2 separate regions of the Homo sapiens genome follow, and region 1 is linked to region 2. Evidence: fine-mapped expression QTL. A gene starts in region 2. The other region holds a variant in brackets. All regions are shown on one strand. Distances are from middle to middle. Region 1 overlaps BTRC (beta-transducin repeat containing E3 ubiquitin protein ligase). Region 2 holds the start of POLL (DNA polymerase lambda).

Evidence for each region. PIP is the estimated chance that this variant, and not a neighbour inherited with it, causes the effect.
Region 1: its variant is the best candidate, but not a certain one, in a credible set for the expression of POLL in whole blood (INTERVAL, PIP 0.56).

What each region holds. Positions count from the first base shown.
Region 1 is chr10:101,459,415-101,467,751 of GRCh38, forward strand. BTRC (beta-transducin repeat containing E3 ubiquitin protein ligase) reads left to right here. Exons shown (of 15, transcript NM_033637.4): 3 at 2,567-2,644. Among named protein-coding and RNA genes, the nearest start is that of BTRC, 110 kb to the left of the region's middle. The variant C/T (reference allele first, on the strand shown) is at 3,820.
Region 2 is chr10:101,584,722-101,593,058 of GRCh38, forward strand. POLL (DNA polymerase lambda) reads right to left here and starts at 3,536. Exons shown (of 9, transcript NM_001174084.2): 1 at 3,101-3,536; 2 at 2,525-2,685; 3 at 1,141-1,435; 4 at 595-757; 5 at 1-198. The coding sequence starts at 2,639. DPCD (deleted in primary ciliary dyskinesia homolog (mouse)) reads left to right here and starts at 3,600. Exons shown (of 6, transcript NM_015448.3): 1 at 3,600-3,679. The coding sequence starts at 3,616. RefSeq lists enhancers at 3,176-3,455, 3,556-3,885.

The DNA.
Region 1 (8,337 bases), 130 kb before region 2:
AGGGTTCCTAATCCTTGTTCCTGATATCATGACTGTTTAATGTCCCTACCTCTATTTTTTTGTAACAACATTATAAGTTGGATTTTTTGTTTGATTTGATTTCTCATGATGGATGGCCCAGAGTAAAAGTGTTGGGTTAATCTGTATTAAAAGAACATACCAATGTTTATGGGTTTCCCCCATTTTTTGTTTAAGAGTTATTTTTAACAATACCATTTAAATATTCTTTGCCCTAGTGGGATAGAAAGGGGAAAGGAACTCCTAAGAAGCTCTGTGTTCTATGTTAGGTTAGTAACACCCTTTAAGCTCCCTTTGTGTTTTCATTCTTTAGACATTTTCATAATACCCACCCAGTGGTTATCCATCTAAATCTGATAAAATAGAGGGTCAGTAAAAAGAAAATTGTGAGTATGGGCTAGTCAATACTCAGGCTGTTAAGGTTGAGATGACTATTTTTCACTTTATAATTCAGTATAGAGGAGTTTGCCAGCAATTGTGTATCAGCCCAAGTACCTGTATAATAAAAATGTGATTTATAGTATCTTTGGTATGACAAACTTCCAGCAAAAAGTAATTAGGCTCCAAGTTATATGATAACATTTCAAAAAACATAATTAATTTTGAAATACAGGATCTTACACTGAATTAAACAGGTTTAGTTTATCTGATCTTTTTATTTATTTATTTAAAGGAGGAATTTCATGACCTGAAAGAGAGTTACTTGCAAATTCTAAGTTTATAATTGGATACTGGCTTAAGCTTCTATTATATAAGGCATTTAATTTTGGTATTTAAAACATTGATCTTTACATTTAAAAAAAAAAAGTTAAACATACAACTTGATGTTATGGGGTAAATAAATGTTGACCTTTCCCTTTCTTTGTTTGATACTCTTACATAGCATGTATTGCCAGTCGCCTCATTTGTCAAGCTTTGTAGTCATTAATTCAATTATATCCTTCCTCCATTTTTTGGTAGATGATCTCCATTCCTTTTTTTCCAAACAGGGAGGAAAAGAAGTTAGAACTCTGAAGTTCTTGAGTCTCTGTCCCTTTCTTTGTAATATAGCATGCTTTTTCTTTAATTTTAGGGACTTTTACAAGGGATCATCACAAATGTAAAATATCAAGTTAAACCTCATAAGATATTTCTGCCCAAAAGAAACACATTAGGGTACTGGCCTGTCAGGCTTACTAAAGGTGACACACAGGTGTCAGCCACAGAGGTGAAAGGGCCTCAGAATGACACAGTACGTTTTTTATCTCTCAGTATCTTTCAAAATGTAATATCTAATAGAAACCAAAAAAGTGAAATTTACATGTAGGTTTAGAACACAGTAATGATTGTATATTAATAATTTCATGCTTGTATGAAAATTTTCAGATAAACTCTCATGTTAAAAATAATTTCTGAACCTACAAATAAACTAACCCTCCTGTTAGAACGTTATGACTATATGTAATGTAAGGAATATATTAACTGTAAGTTTTTTGTTGTTGTTGTTTTGAGACGGAACCTTGCTCTGTCACTCAGGCTGGAGTGCAGTGGTGTGATCTCGGCTCACTGCAACCTCGGCCTCCTGGGTTCAGGCGATTCTCCTGCCTCAGACTCTCGAGTAGCTGGGATTACAGGCACCCACCACCACACTTGGCTAATTTTGTATTTTTAGTAGAGACACAGTTTCAGCATGTTGGCCAGGCTGGTCTCAAACTCCTGACCTCAGATGATCTGCCCGCCTTGGCCTCCCAAAGTGCTGGGATTACAAGTGTGAGCCACCGCACCTAGCACAACTGCAGGGTTTTAAATATTAATGTTATTAATGTTACTAATGTTGTTGCTGAAAATGGAACTCAAATAATATGTAATTTGGATTTTCTGTATTTTGCCTTGTAGATAGTGATTTACATATATTGACTAGCAGATTTTTAGTACTTATGAACTCATTTTCAGTTGGATTGTTGTTTTTTTCCCCCTCCTAAGTATATAAAAACCCCACTGACATTTTAGGGCCTCTAGCTGCTGTTTGAGGTGACAGTGCCAAGGAATGGACTCTAATCCTAAACTACTGAGTAAATGTTTTTTTAAGTCCTATGCTACTTTTATCAAAGAAAATAAAATCAAATCTGAGAAGAGGGGGAAGAGAAATAACTATTTTTAGGACCCAGACTTGGAGATCTGTGCCAACCAAACATCTACTATAATCGAGAGAAGGTAATAATCATGGTTTTAGTTGTCATCAGCTAAGTGTGGGCTGGAACTTTCTTGTATCCAGTGTCAACCTGTGTCAAAGTGCAAGCTAGAGATCTAATGAATATGATCTCCTACACAATGCTTAAAGATACATGAAATACTTCCCATCTAAATCCTTACATAATTTATTTATATACATGGGCATATGTTTTCTTTTACATATGTGTATATCTGTATGTATACAAATCTTCAAGTGAATAATTGTATAAATATATGTATGTTCTAACTTACAGAATTAGAAATGTAATTCAGTTTACTCCCAAAGGATAAGATTGAAGATAATGAGAACTGAATTAAAGCTTACTTTCTTTCACAGAATTCCTCAGAGAGAGAAGACTGTAATAATGGCGAACCCCCTAGGAAGATAATACCAGAGAAGAATTCACTTAGACAGGTATGAAATTCAGCCTTACTTAAAATAAAAAGCTACCAACAGCAAAACAAAAGACAGGAGGAAACCCTTGATTTGCCATTCTTTAAGCACTGGAGCTTATATTAAGAGTACTCGGACGTTGGCCTGGCCATAGCCATCACTTTCAATCAGGTGACATGGTTTTCCCAGTTATTTAAAAAACATTCTAGGTATACATGTACAGGACAGCTGGTTGGCATTTTTAAAAAAGTATAAAAACAGATCTGCCTGTAATAAAGTTAGCCCTTTTAGTATGAGCAATATTTTGTTTGCTTTTTCTAGAAGAAAAGGCCATTGTTAATAATAACTTAAAAAAACAGCAGCCGGGCAAGGTGGCTAACGCCTATAATCCCACCACTTTGGGAGGCTGAGGCAGGCGAATACCTGAAGTCGGGAGTTCGAGACCAGCCTGACCAACATGGAGAAACCCAGTCTCTACTAAAAATACAAAAATTTGCTGGGCATGCTGGCGCATGCCTGTAATCCCAGCTACTCAGGAGGCTGAGGCAGGAGAATCACTTGAACCCCAGAGGCAGAGGTTGCGGTGAGCTGAGATTGCGCCATTGCACTCCAGCCTGGGCAACAAGAGCAAAACTCCGTCTCAAAAAAAAAAAAAAAAAATAGCTCACCACTGTGCCCCAATAGAAGGTAACACATTTTACTTGTGAAAGTTCAATACCATTGTGTTCTTGTAAAAATTAGAATGTCCTTGGCAAAAACAAGAAACGCAAGTTCTTATGATGTTGCCAGAGAATAAGTGTGCCACCTATTCATTTTTATTTTTATTATTTTATTTTATTTTTATTTTTGAGACAAAGCCTCACTCTGTCGCCCAGGCTGGAGTGCAGTGGCGTGATCTCGGCTCACTGCAACCTCTGCCTTCTGGGTTCAAGCGATTCTCCTGCCTCAGCCTCCTGAGTAGCTGGAATTACAGGTGCCTGCCACCATGCCTGGCTAATTTTTGTATTTTGGGGTTTTTTTTTTTTTGAGACACAGTCTTGCTCTATCGCCCAGGCTGGAGTGCAGTGGTGTGATCTTGGCTCACCACAACCTCCACCTCCAGGGTTCAAGCGACTCTTCTGCCTCAGCCTCCTGCGTAACTGGGACTACAGGTGCCCACTACCACACCGGGCTAATTTTTGTATTTTTAGTAGAAA[C/T]GGGGTTTCACCATGTTGGCCAGGCTGGTCGCAAACTCTTGACCTTGTGATCTGCCCACCTAAGCCTCCCAAAGTGCTGGGATTACAGGCATGAGCCACTGTTCCCGACCTAATTTTTGTATTTTTAGTAGAGACAGGGTTTCACCATGTTGGCCAGGCTGTTCTCAGACCCCTGACCTCAGGTGATCTGCCCAGCTTGGCCTCCCAAAGTGCTGGGATTACAGACATGAGCCACCACACCTGGCCCTGTATTCATTTTTAATATAAAATTGGATACAATGAGCCTGAGCAGCAGTAAAAATAATTCTAATTTACTTGGATTTATAGCATTGTTCTAGGAAATAGGAGATCTAATATTTGTTGAGCACCCACCGTGAACATGATGCTTATTTGATTTAACCCTCACAATAACCCTGTAAAGTTTTTAGATATGATGTGACTTCCAATTTATAGATGAAGAAAATGGAGGGTTAGAGAGGTTAGATGACTTGTCTAGCTAATTAGTGATTTGATACTCAGATCTCAGTGTTTCCAAAGCGTTTCTACTTGTGCCTTCTGACTTCAGTTTATATATAGTGTTTAGAGGGAAAGTACTTGAAACTGTGACACATTCATTTTTTAATTTACTATATGTTAAATGTTTTTTGGATGAACACTTCTTTTTTTTATAAAAATAATTGTTTAGTAAATAGAATTGAATCATCCAGGAAGCTTTAAAAAAAAAAACAAACAAAAATCCACAAATGATCAGTAATTGATGTTGAGACAGTTACAATTTTAACTGTTTGGAGAATCAACACCTGATCTGTTCATCTAAACCAATAGGACAATACTGAATAAGATAAATTGGGAAGTAGGAACACTCTGCCCACTATACAGAAACAACTGTCGGAAAACAATGACACAACAAAAGTTTTGGCAACTTTATTTAAGCTAACAAACGAATTTTCTCTCTGCAAAGTTATAAATTAATTTTAATAGGCTGATCCAGATGGTCCATTTGGAAAATGGATAGGCTGATCTGTTGAAAATTAAACTAAATTTATCTCTCTCATACTTCAAACTGAAGCAAGAGAGAGAATCATGCCTATTAAGTCCAGCACATACAGATGGACCAGCAGGTCACACATGGGACTAATCTGATTCATTTTAAAAATAAATGCATACATTATTGAATCATTTTCTACTTGCAAGATCTGTTGTGTGCAATATTCGAAAGAGATTTAATGTTGTTTTTTTCATTGCCGTTTTAGCAGGTTCTCTTCCCCACTCCCCCTGCCCACTTTAATTTAACAACCTTCCCCCCCACCCCCCCCATGGTGCTTTGAAATGATTTTTCTAATATCTGTCATTCAGTGTTGAGATCCAAGCTCTGGAGATTAATTAGGTCATGAGGCTTTTTCTCCTCCCTTCTTTGTAAAGGGTTTTATCTCCATTCTCTTTGTGAAGAGCATGAACTCAATGTTCTTGGAAAGAGAAATGGCCTTTAGAAACAGGGAAGTAGGAGATCCTCCTGGGGCCCTCAGAGTCTTTTAGCTTCTGGGTGTTTTAGCAGCCCCATGAATGCAGATTTGTAAATTTATTGCAGTGCCATCTGGTTTTTTGCTCGAACCAGATTACTGTTGGCTTGTGTCTGTCTATTGTGGTGGTCACTCCCTAGGAGCTTGCCCTCTCTATCTTAGGGAAGAGTGATGAATAGCAGGGGTCAATAGAAGCGGGTCACAGGGCAGCTGTCCAGGACTGCCCTGAACTTGATTACCCCATTGCTGATTTTTTTTAAGGTAGGACATAGTATATAAGCTGTTTAAACTCCCTCTTTTCTCTATTGCATATGACAATAATGAAGTGCCATTTGCTATTTTGTTTTTTTGTTTTTGTTTTGTTTTGTTTTTCCTGTAGTCAACTTCTGTAGACAAAAAGATGTCAAGGCCGCCTTATACCTAGTATTGATACAAGTAGGATTTGCATCTCATTAACTTGAGATTCTTTTGCAGATATTTCTAATGGGATTTCAGAAACTCACTATTGATTATAAAAAGTTCAGTTATCTTCTAGCAATTTAACATTGTTTTTAACTAATATTATAGTTGACATATATTATTCAAAAATAGCGTTTTGCCATTGTTGATAGGACATAACTACTGCATGTTAATTTGGAGAGCTATTTAAATATTGGAGGAGCAAACAACTTTATACCAAAAATTTGGCAAGTTGAACAAATTCCTTGAAAAATACAACTTACCAAAACTCTTAACACAGGGTGAAGCAAAATTTGAATAGCCTGATGTCTATTAAATAAATTTAATTAATCATCAGAAGGGACATGTGGTTTTACTGGTGAATTCAACAAATATTTAAGGAAGAAATGATACGAATTTTATGCCAGACCCTTTCACAGAATAGAGAAGGAAAGAACACTCCTTGACTTAAAAATCCACCATAACAGTAATTCCAAAACCCGACAAAGATATTACCAGAACAAGAAATAATGAAGGTGGAAATTAAGAGACACTGTTCCCTGTGTCTGTCACCAAGTCATTTTGTATACCTGCTTTTTCGTTTCATTTCCAGCATCTGAAGATGGAAGAGTTTGGGGTAGGGAGAGGAAGTAGAGCAGTGTATCCTTGTAAAGAAAGTTAATTTTCTTAGTTTCAGAATAATCTCATTTCTTGGCATTAAATATGAACTTTTATTTAAAGGATGTACAAAATAGCTACAATTTTTGTTTTACTCCTAAAAATGTGAAGTCAAGGAAAGGATAGCCACTGTTTTCCTACCTTTTATTCCTATCTGCAATCAAGGGCAAAGGCCTGGGAGGATACATGAAAGTACTCATTACTTTTTGAAAATTGTGGCATTACAACGTTCAACTCTTTGCTTCTCATTGGTGCTAATAGGATCTGTCAGCCCTGCCTTTCTCTGTAATTGAGTAAATTGTGACCGTTGTCTAATCCCTCTCCCATCCCCCATTTCCTTTGTGTATGTGTCCACTTACCATCCTGAGAACGTGGGCAGTGATAAATAAAGCATTGAGTAGAGCTCTCTCAACTCTCTGAAAGCAGCATGATGCCAGCCCTCTAGTTATATTTCTTTAAGTGTTTAGGTTTTTCTGTATTCTTTCTCTTGTGTAGCTGGAACCCTGGGGATGCAAAGCCATGAGAGAGGCCAAGAAGCTAACAAAGTAGCTGTCTCCCTTGTTAGCTTGTTCCTTTATTCTTTAAAAACAAGATAAAAACCATCTGGCTCAGGGCATTACATTTTCCTCCCCCATGCACCTCTATAGATGGAGACTTCACCTGCAGTGAGGGTTTACATTGATTAGGGAGGGAGCAGTAATTCAAGCTTCCATCCTCTTCAAGGATACTTTGCAGTCTTTAAAGGTGCTGACCCACTGAGTTAGACTGTCAAGGGAGGATAAAAAAGTATCTTCATCCCAGGAGGTAACAGCTGCCAGGTTTTCAACACCTTGCACGCTGCTGGAAAAATGTCACAATTGTCAGCTGAAAGAAAAATGACTGTGTTGTCATCTTCTGTTAATGACTGGGCCTTATAAAAGGAACTACATAAGTCTTTTAGAAGGAATAAGTAGCTGTTTTCCTTTTCTACCATATTCCCCTCCCCTGAAAAAATTCCTGCGTTCTAAACATTGCCTTGGAGTAGATCCACAAAAAACAGCAGTGAAGAACTTAAATCAGCCAGTATAAGCATGGAAGTCTGATGGGCATAGCTCCTTTATACAGTTGGATGAGTAGGAGGAAAAAGCACATCACTGACACAGAAAATGACATTATAGTGTGTATTAACAAAACAACCACAACAACAAAAAGTCATTCATAAGCCAGTGAACTGAGAGAAAACATACTGTATTTCTGTTCTTTGGAGGACAATTTATTTTCAAGCAGCATCCAGATGGGTAAATACCAAGACATTTCTTTTTTCAAGAGAGCTCCTTTTCTTCCTTTAAAAAAAAAAAAAACACAGAATTTGCTTCCTTTAATAGCTCTGTAATGTTCATATATGATGGCATTCCCTTCTTTCTGATTTGATTGATGAGGGAAAAAGGTTTAATGAAGTCCCTGATATCAGGCAGGCAGGGTTTTTTTTTTTTTTTTCTCTCTATTTGTTTTAGGTTAGTCACTTTAATTGTATTGAGTAATTAGAAGGTACACACAGCCAAGGGAGCTTTGTTCTGATAATTGCTCGAGAAAACCCATTCCCTATCTGCCGTTGCTTTGTGTTAAGACACTTCTCCCTCTAGTGGCAATAGTAAGCACTTTGGCTTGGCAGTAGGCAAGGTGTAATTGCAATATGACAAACTATGCTTAAGGGACTGTCTTGTAAATACTTTCGTTTGGGGTTTGCATTATTTCATTATATATGTGTGGTTGGTTGTTGTTGGTTTTTTTTACTCTATAAAACTTGCTACCTCTTTTTGCCCTCCTAAAGTGCTTTGGGCTTTGGGTAAAAAAAAAATTGCCTGAGATGTTTATTAATAAAAAAAATCACAATGCATTCTGG
Region 2 (8,337 bases):
TGTGATATGGAGGTTGTGATTGGTCGCCTTCTGGCTTGAGGGCTGTGCACAGACCCACTTATCCAGGACAGCAGGGGCTGGGCTAGGCTCACAATCTCCCTCAAGGGAGGTGGGGTAGTGGCCACTGATGAGGGCTTCCAGATCAGCTGCACTAACCTGGGTTTCTTCCCCATCACTGGCTTCATCATCAGAGATGGGCTTGGGATAGAGAAGAAAAGAAAACAATAAATTCTTGTTCTCCAAGAGAAGGGATCCTTAAAGGTGGGGGTCATCTTCTTTGTGCGGGGGGAGGGTCTTCTAGTCAGACCTAAGAATGAGGCGGGGCCTTCTGCATCAGACTTGGATCTCCTTGGGTGTGAGGCCACGTTCCCTTTGGCTCCACGCAGTGCCTAGCCCTAGGATCCCCAGTGGTATGTGTTAGATATGGCCTAGATAAATGCAGCAGTGATGAGTGTTGGGAAGAGCTAAATGGCTTCACAATAGAGCCCTCCTCTCTCAGGGGCCTGGGACTTTCTGAACAGCCACCAGGCCCACCCCATTTCTGTGATCTGCTTCCTAGGGGAAGGGAGTTCTGAGGGATGGGAGGCTCCTGACCTGGGCTTGGGTGTTTGGTGCCTCTTTTGCCTTTTGGGGAGGAGACACAGGCCTGGTGGGAGGAGGAGGAGGAGAAAGGGCTGTCTGAAGCAGGGCCTCATGGGTGCCAGGAGGAATAGAAGCATCCTGCTCTGCCTTGCTGGGCTGTGGATGGTCCAAGTACCTGTGGGGATGGTGATGGGAGGTTAAGACACCAAAGGTCTCACCCTGTATCTGTCCCCAGTCCTTCTGTACTCTGAAATACTTGGTTTCCCAGTGTGTCCAATTAAGAAAACGAGTTTTTTGAGGTTTTTGGAGTTTCTCTTGAGACAGGGTCTTGCTCTGTCACCCAGGCTGGAGTACAGTGGTACGATCAAGGCTCACTGCAGCCTTAACCTCCCTGGCTCAATCAATCCTCCCACCTAAACCTCTTATAGCTGGGACTACAGGCACACCCCACCATGCCTGGCTAATTTTTTAATTAATGATAGTTATTTTTAATAATTCAAGAAAAGAGCTCAAGATGCTACTAGAAAACATTTGAAAAAAAGACTGGGATCAGCCCACCTACTGGGGATGAAGATGCTGAATCCAGCTACATCCACCAGCCTCCTCTCCTGAAGGCACAAGCTCAGCCAGGCTGACTTCACCAGCTGAGCACCCGGGGGCAGCTGGGGTAGTCTGAGAAGGCGGAGGGCTCGCTCATAGTCCATGCCTTCATCCACCACAATGTGAGTGACACCTGGGCCCTGGGCAGGGCATAGCTGGCCGCCATGCTGAACAATCTGCTTCTCAAAGAGTTCTGCCCGGGCTCGTCCAATGCCAGTGCGCACAACATGGGCCCGAAGGGAGCTCAGCCACTCTGTGGAAGGAACATCCAGATGACTACTGTTGTAACTTTTTAATTTTTATCTGCCACCCCCTGGCCACGACATAACTTCTAACATGATCTGAATGACGTGTTCACAGTCCCCTACCCTGAAAATAAGCATTTCCCTTCCATCCAGACAGCTTTCCTTCTACATATAGCAAATTTTCTCACAGGCCAGCACTTGAATGTAAGGGACAAGGATTTTCATACGTCCTGTTCCTTGGTGCAATCTAGAAGTGTCTGGCACATTGTAAGTAACCTGTAAATATTTGTTTAATGAATGCCTCCTCCCTTCTTACTTTGTTTTTTGTTTGTTTGTTTTGTTTTCTTTTGTTTTGTTTTTGTTTGGAGACAGTCTCACTCTGTCGCCCAGGCTGGAGTACAGTGGCATCGTCTTGGCTCACTGCAACCTCCATCTCCCGAGTTCAAGCGATTCTCATGCCTCAGCCTCCCGAGTAGCTGGGATTACCGGCGTGTGCCACCATGCCTGGCTAATTTTTTGTATTTTTAGTAGAGACAGGGTTTCGCCATGTTGCCCAAGCTGGTCTCGAACTCCTGAGCACAGGTGATCTGCCTGCCTCGGCCTCCCAAAGTGCTGAGATTACAGGCAAGAGCCACCGCGCCCAGCCTCTCTCCATACTTTGAATCCTTTATCATTTATTCTTTCAACAAAGCGCGTTTCTTGCCCTTACAGTCTGACAGACCCGACAACCCTGCCTCCAAAGCCTCTGCCATTTATTTGCCAATTTGGCTGCAAAACAACTAACAACAAGCCTGGGTAATGGAGGGGGGTTTCTGTCCCAGTCCTCAGGGCAAAAATTATACTGGTCATTCCCTGAGGGCCCAGGGAGTCTTTTCTGATGGATAGAGGTCTTCGGGTAGAAAAGAAGGTAACACAGCAAATAGCCTGTCCAAGACCCAGGACCAAGCTTAGCACAAGGTAGATACAAACAGACCTGCAGGCCCTGGACAGGCAGAGTCAGCTCCAATATCTGATTCTGGACATAAACAACGTAGGGCTGAAGCACATGAAGGCTGTGGGTTCAAGCACACGAGGGTTCTGAGACTGGGTCAGCTCACCTTCTGCTTCTTCTCCCTCTTCCCTCCTAGGAATCTTTGCAAGTACTTTTGATGATGCATCAGCATGAATTTTCTGCCGCTTGGGAAATGCCTTCAAGATACCCCTGGGATCCATTGAAGTATGGCTGGATCCCGGCCTATTGGAGCGTTGGTCAGGGCTGCTGCACGTGGAAATCCAGAATTGAGGCCCTCCAACCCCTTTGCCTATGGAGGTAGGGTCTTTCCTGACCAGGCTTTGGGGGTAGCAGCCCAGTTTGGGGAAGCGGGTCGGGGGAGGGGGTCTCTTCAAACCCGGTTAAACTTCAGTGGTTTAGCCTAGCTTCACACTCCCCAGCCTTTCGAAGTTGGAGTATTACGGGAAATGAGGGGAAGGCTGGTGCCATCGGGGGTACTTTTGAGGAGTAGGAAACGACACCATTCCTCAGAGGGGTTGCGCTAAAGATTCAGCACAGCCCTGCTGCGGCCCACTTCGAAGGGCTTTACCAAATGGGATGCTGGGCTAGGAAATGGAGCTTTAGGGGATGGAGCGGAGCCTGGGGAGGACCTGCACATAAACCCCACATACTATTTCTCTACCTCCAACACAGACTCGCAGAGGAAGGAGGAGGACTTTCGGGGGTGAGTGGGAACGCCCTGCACCTGTCCTGGTCTCAGCCTCTCGACATGGGGGTGCTCAGCGCCGCAGCTGCGGGGAGATGGGGCACGGCCGCAGCAGGTGTGGGGAGCCCTCCGGGAATGGAGGAGTCTCGCAGCTGCGGGTGAAGTCCCGGGCAGGTGCGGTGTACTCGCCGTGTACGCAGCTGGCGCAGGCCAGGGAATCCCAGCTCGGGGCTAGAAGAAAGCTGGAGTGCCCGACCCCGGCCCCAAGAGTCTCTCCAACCCCCAGAGTCGGTCCCCGGGTGGGGTCGACTACTGGCCAAGCTAGTCACCCGGGGGTGGGCAGGAATAGACCACTTACCAGCAGAGCCAATGAGAGCGGACGAAGGGGGGAAGGAGGGCAAATGGCCAGAATAGCTTCCGAGTCAGCCGGAAGTGACCCTCTGGAACGGTTGCCATGGCAGCGGCTGGGCGTGCTGCTTAGCAGGGGAAAGATGGCGGTGACGGGCTGGTTGGAGAGTCTGCGGACAGCCCAGAAGACTGCGCTGCTGCAGGACGGTAACTCGAGGGTCCCCACGGGCTCCTTCGTTTTTTTCCCTCAGGGTCCGGCCCTCCGGGAAGGGCCTCAGGGCCTGGGTCGGCAGAGCTGGAAGGGTCTCGGCGGTCAGCCGGGCCAGGTCCTGCATTTGCAGATGAGGAGACTGAGGTTCACAGAGATGACATGACTGGAACACATGTCTCCGGACACCCCTTAGATTCCTCTACACCATCTCGCTCCGCTCTGATTTCTGTTGCTAATATAGTAATTTCTTTTACATTCATTATCTCATTTGCTCCTCACCACTGTCCTGAGAGGCTAATTTTCACCCCGTTTTACAGAAGAGGAAACTGAAATCCAAGAATGTTTTAGACTTTAGAGAGGAGAGAGGCCTGGGCTCTAGTTCCGACTGTGCCATTAATTCACCACGGGCGCTTCAGTCGGCTCCTTTACTTGTTTGGGCCTCACTTTCCTCATCTATAAAATGAAGTGGATGGACTACCATTGTTATCTCTGAGGTCCTTTCCAGCTGTAATATTTTTGTTAAGTGAACTTCTAAATATTTTCTGTGTCTTTAGGGGAGCTAGAGCAAGAACCAAGGGCTGTGCCTGGAAGAAGTGGGCACAGGGGCATGGATACCTAACTTTTCCCCACCCTAGGATTGGCCGATGCCGGCCCCTTTGTGCACTTGGGTCCTTTCTGGACCCACTGGGTAGCCAGGATGAATTGCGTCTGAAGTTCCTGAGGCTTTCAAGATAACAACTGGTGACTCATGTTCACAGGCAGGGGCCAATCAGGGAAGCCTGGAGTTTGTGGAAATTAAAATCATTTACTCGTTCGTGCAACATTTAGGAAGACTTTTACTATGTGCCAAGCTCTAAACTAGAACAGAAAGAAAAAGATATGTTGTCCCAGGACTCAGAGTGGTTGGGAAAAACATGTACTTAAATAATAAGAAGCGTTAAATAGAGGTTGTAGTCTTGTATAAAATGGTAGGAAAGAGTGAAGGTGTAAGTGACATCTCTTTGGAGGAAGACCCAACAGAAGTGATGATGTTTCTGGGTCCTAAAGAATTAATAAGGTCAGGCACAGTGGCTCACGCCCGTAATTCCAGCACTCTGGGAGGCCAAAGTGGGCGGATCATTTGAGCTCAGGAGTTCGAGACCAGCTTGGGCAACATGGCCAAACCTCATCTCTACAAAAAATACGGAAATTATGGCCGGATGTGGTGGTTCACGCCTGTAATCCCAGCATGTTGGGAGGCCGAGTGGGCGGATCCCTTGAGGCCAGGAGTTCGAGACCAGCCTAGCCAACATGATGAAACCACCCCATCGCTACTAAAAATACAAAAAAATTAGCCAGGTGTGGTGGTGCGCACCCGTAATTCCAGCTACTCTGGAGGCTGAGGCAGGAGAATCGCTTGAACCCGGGAGATGGAGGTTGCAGTGAACTGAGATCACACCACTGCATTCCAGCCTGGGTGACAGAGTGAGTGAGACTGTGTCTCAGACAAAAAAATAAATAAGCCGTGCATCATGGCACATGCCTGTAGTCCCAGCTACTTGTGGTGGCTGAGGCCAGAGGATCGCTTGAGCCAGCGAGGTAGACGCAGCAGTGAGCCGAGATCATGCCAGTGCACTCCAGCTTGGGCGACAGAGCGAGACCCTGTCTCAAAAAAACTGGAAAAAAAAAAAAAAAAAAGAATTAATAGGCGTTTGCTGAGTGAAGAAGAGGGGATAGCTATTCAAAGAACAACTCACATATAAGGACCCTATGTGAAGGTGTGAAGGTACGTGCCTGATTACTAGAGGAATAACAAAATGTTTAGTAATGTTAAAGCAGTCACTCAGTCAGAACAAACCACCTATAACTATGTCAGGTACTATTCTAGGTGCCAGGATGGAAGCGAGAATAAAAAGGTCCCTTTTCTCAAGGAGCAATGAGGGGAAGTTGTGGAAAATGAAGAGAGATGACAGATAAGTTGGGACATATTGTGATAGATCTCTTATGCCTTGCTAAAGATTTAGGACATTTTCTCATAGGACAGTGGTTTTTGTTTTTATTGTGGTAATAAATACATAACAGAATTTAGCATTTTAATCATTTTTAAGTGTACAGTTCTGTGGCATTAAGTACATTCACATTGTTGTGCAACTATCACCACCATCTTCAGAACTTTTTAATCTTTCTCAACGGAAATTCTTTTTTTTTTTTTTTTTTTAGAGACAGGGTCTTGCTCTGTCACCCAGGCTGTGGGGTACGATCATAGCTCACTGCAGCCTTGAACTCCTAGGCTCATGTAGTCCTCCCACCTCAGCCTCTTGAATAGCTGGGACTACAGGCATGTGCCACTACACTCAGCTCAAGTGAAATTCTGTACCCACCAAATGCCAACTCCTCATTCCCTCCTCCTCCCATCCCCTGGCAACCACCATTCTACTTTCTGTCTATGAATTTGACTGCTCTAGGAACCTCGTCTAAGTGGAATCATACAATATTTGTCTTTCTGTAACTGGTGTATTTCACTTAGTGTAACGCTTCAAGGTTCATCCATGTTGCCACAGTTGGATACTTCCAGCTGTGCCATTAATTCACCACAGGATCTCTAGTTGGCCCCTTTACTTGTTTGGATCCTTTCCAGCTGTAATATCGTTCATAAAGTAAACCTCTAAATGTTCCCTGTGTTTTTAGGGGAGATAGAGCAAGGACCAAGGGCTGTGCCTGGAAGAGGTGGGCACAGAGGTATGGATATTGTAGCATGTGTCAAAATTTTGCTCCTTTTTAAGGCTGAGTGATATCCATTGTATGTCTACACTGCATTCTGTTTATTTATTCATCTGTTGATGGACACCTGGGTTGCTTCCACCTTTTGGGTATTGTGGATAATGCTGCTCTGAACATGAGTATACAAATATCCACTTGAGTCCCTGCTTTCACTGTTTTTGGTCACAGAAGTTTTTAAACAAATATTTTATCAGCCAGGATTTTGTTAAGTTCTTTTGTTAGTAGCATCACAAAATGATATTGTTAAGATTCCACCCTATCCCCAGACTGAAAAACAACTCAGTATTGCATATGTGGTTAAGCCTTGTCAAACCTGCAGATTTACCCCTGGGTGTGTAGGAGGGGTGTGGGGAGTAGGGGGGAGGTTACTCCCTTCCACCAAGAATCATGGCTATTGATATCTTGGGCTGGATAATGAGACTCCATTTTACTTTTGTTTTTTTAAGAAATAATTACATTCATTGTGGAAATATGAAAAATAAAGAAGTCAAATATAATATTACCACCCAGATAATCATAATTTACTTTTTTTTTTGAGACAAGTTTCACTCTTGTTGCCCAAACTGGAGTGCAATGGCGCAATCTCGGCGCACTGCAACCTTTGCCTGCTGGGTTCAAGCGATTCTCCTATCTCAGTCTCCTGAGTAGCTGGGATTATAGGCGCCCGCCACCAAGCCCGGCTAATTTTTTTTTTAATTTTTAGTAGAGACAGGGTTTCACCATGTTAACCAGGCTGGTCTCAAACTCCAGACCTTAGGTGATCCGCCTGCATCGGCTTCCCAAAGGGCTGAGATTACAGGCGTGAGCCGCCTCGCCCAGCCCATAATTTATATTTTTATACATAAACTTCTATATTATTTCATGCATACACTCACAGTTATTTTTCTTTTACAAAAATATACTAATATACTTAATAATTTATATATACATTTATTTCTAGAATAAATATACTATTAAAACAAAGTATAGATAAGTATCGAATAATCATTGGGTAAGGGAAGATGCTCTGAGTGCAACTTCTAAGGCAGTAACCACAAAGAAAGAAAATATATAGTTGGCTTTATAAAAACTAAACACCTGTGTTGGGTACCTGTAATCCCAGCTACTGGGGAAACTGAGGCAGGAAGCTCACTTGAGGCCAGAAGTTTGAGGCTGTAGTGTGCTATAATCATGCCTGTGAATAGCCACTGCACTCCAGCCTAGGGAACATAGCCAGACACTCTTAAAAAACAAAAACACTTGTTTGGGAAAACCCACTTTAAACAAAGTTAAGGGCCAGGCGTGGTGGCTCACACCTGTATTCTCAACACTTTGAGAGGCCAAGGCAGGAGGATCACTTGAGCTCAGGAGTTTGAGATCAGTCTGGGTAACATAGTAAGACCCCATCTCTACAAAGAAATTTAAAAATTAGCTGGGCATGGTGGTGTGCAACCATGGTCCCAGCTACTCGGGAGTCTGAGGTGGAGGATCACTTGAGCCCAGGAGGCAGAGGTTGCAGTGAGCCGAGATCACACCACTGCACTCCAGCCTTGGCAACAGAGCAAGACACTCTAAAAAAAAGCCTCAGTTGGCCGGGCGTGGTGGCTCATGCCTGTAATCCCAGCCCTTTGGGAGGCTGAGATGGGCAGATCACGAGCTCAGGAGATTGAAACCATCCTAGCCAAAATGGTGAAGCCCTGTGTCTACTAAAAATACAAAAATTAGCTGGGTGTGGTAGCATTCACCTGTAGTCCCAGCTACTCAGGAGGCTGAGGCAGGAGAATTGCTTAAACCCGGGAGGCAGAGGTTGCAGTGAGCCGAGATCACACCACTGCACTCCAGCCTGGCGACAGAGCGAGACTCTGTCAAAAAAAAAAACCCTCACTTTTCCTCATCTATGAAATACAGGTAATGA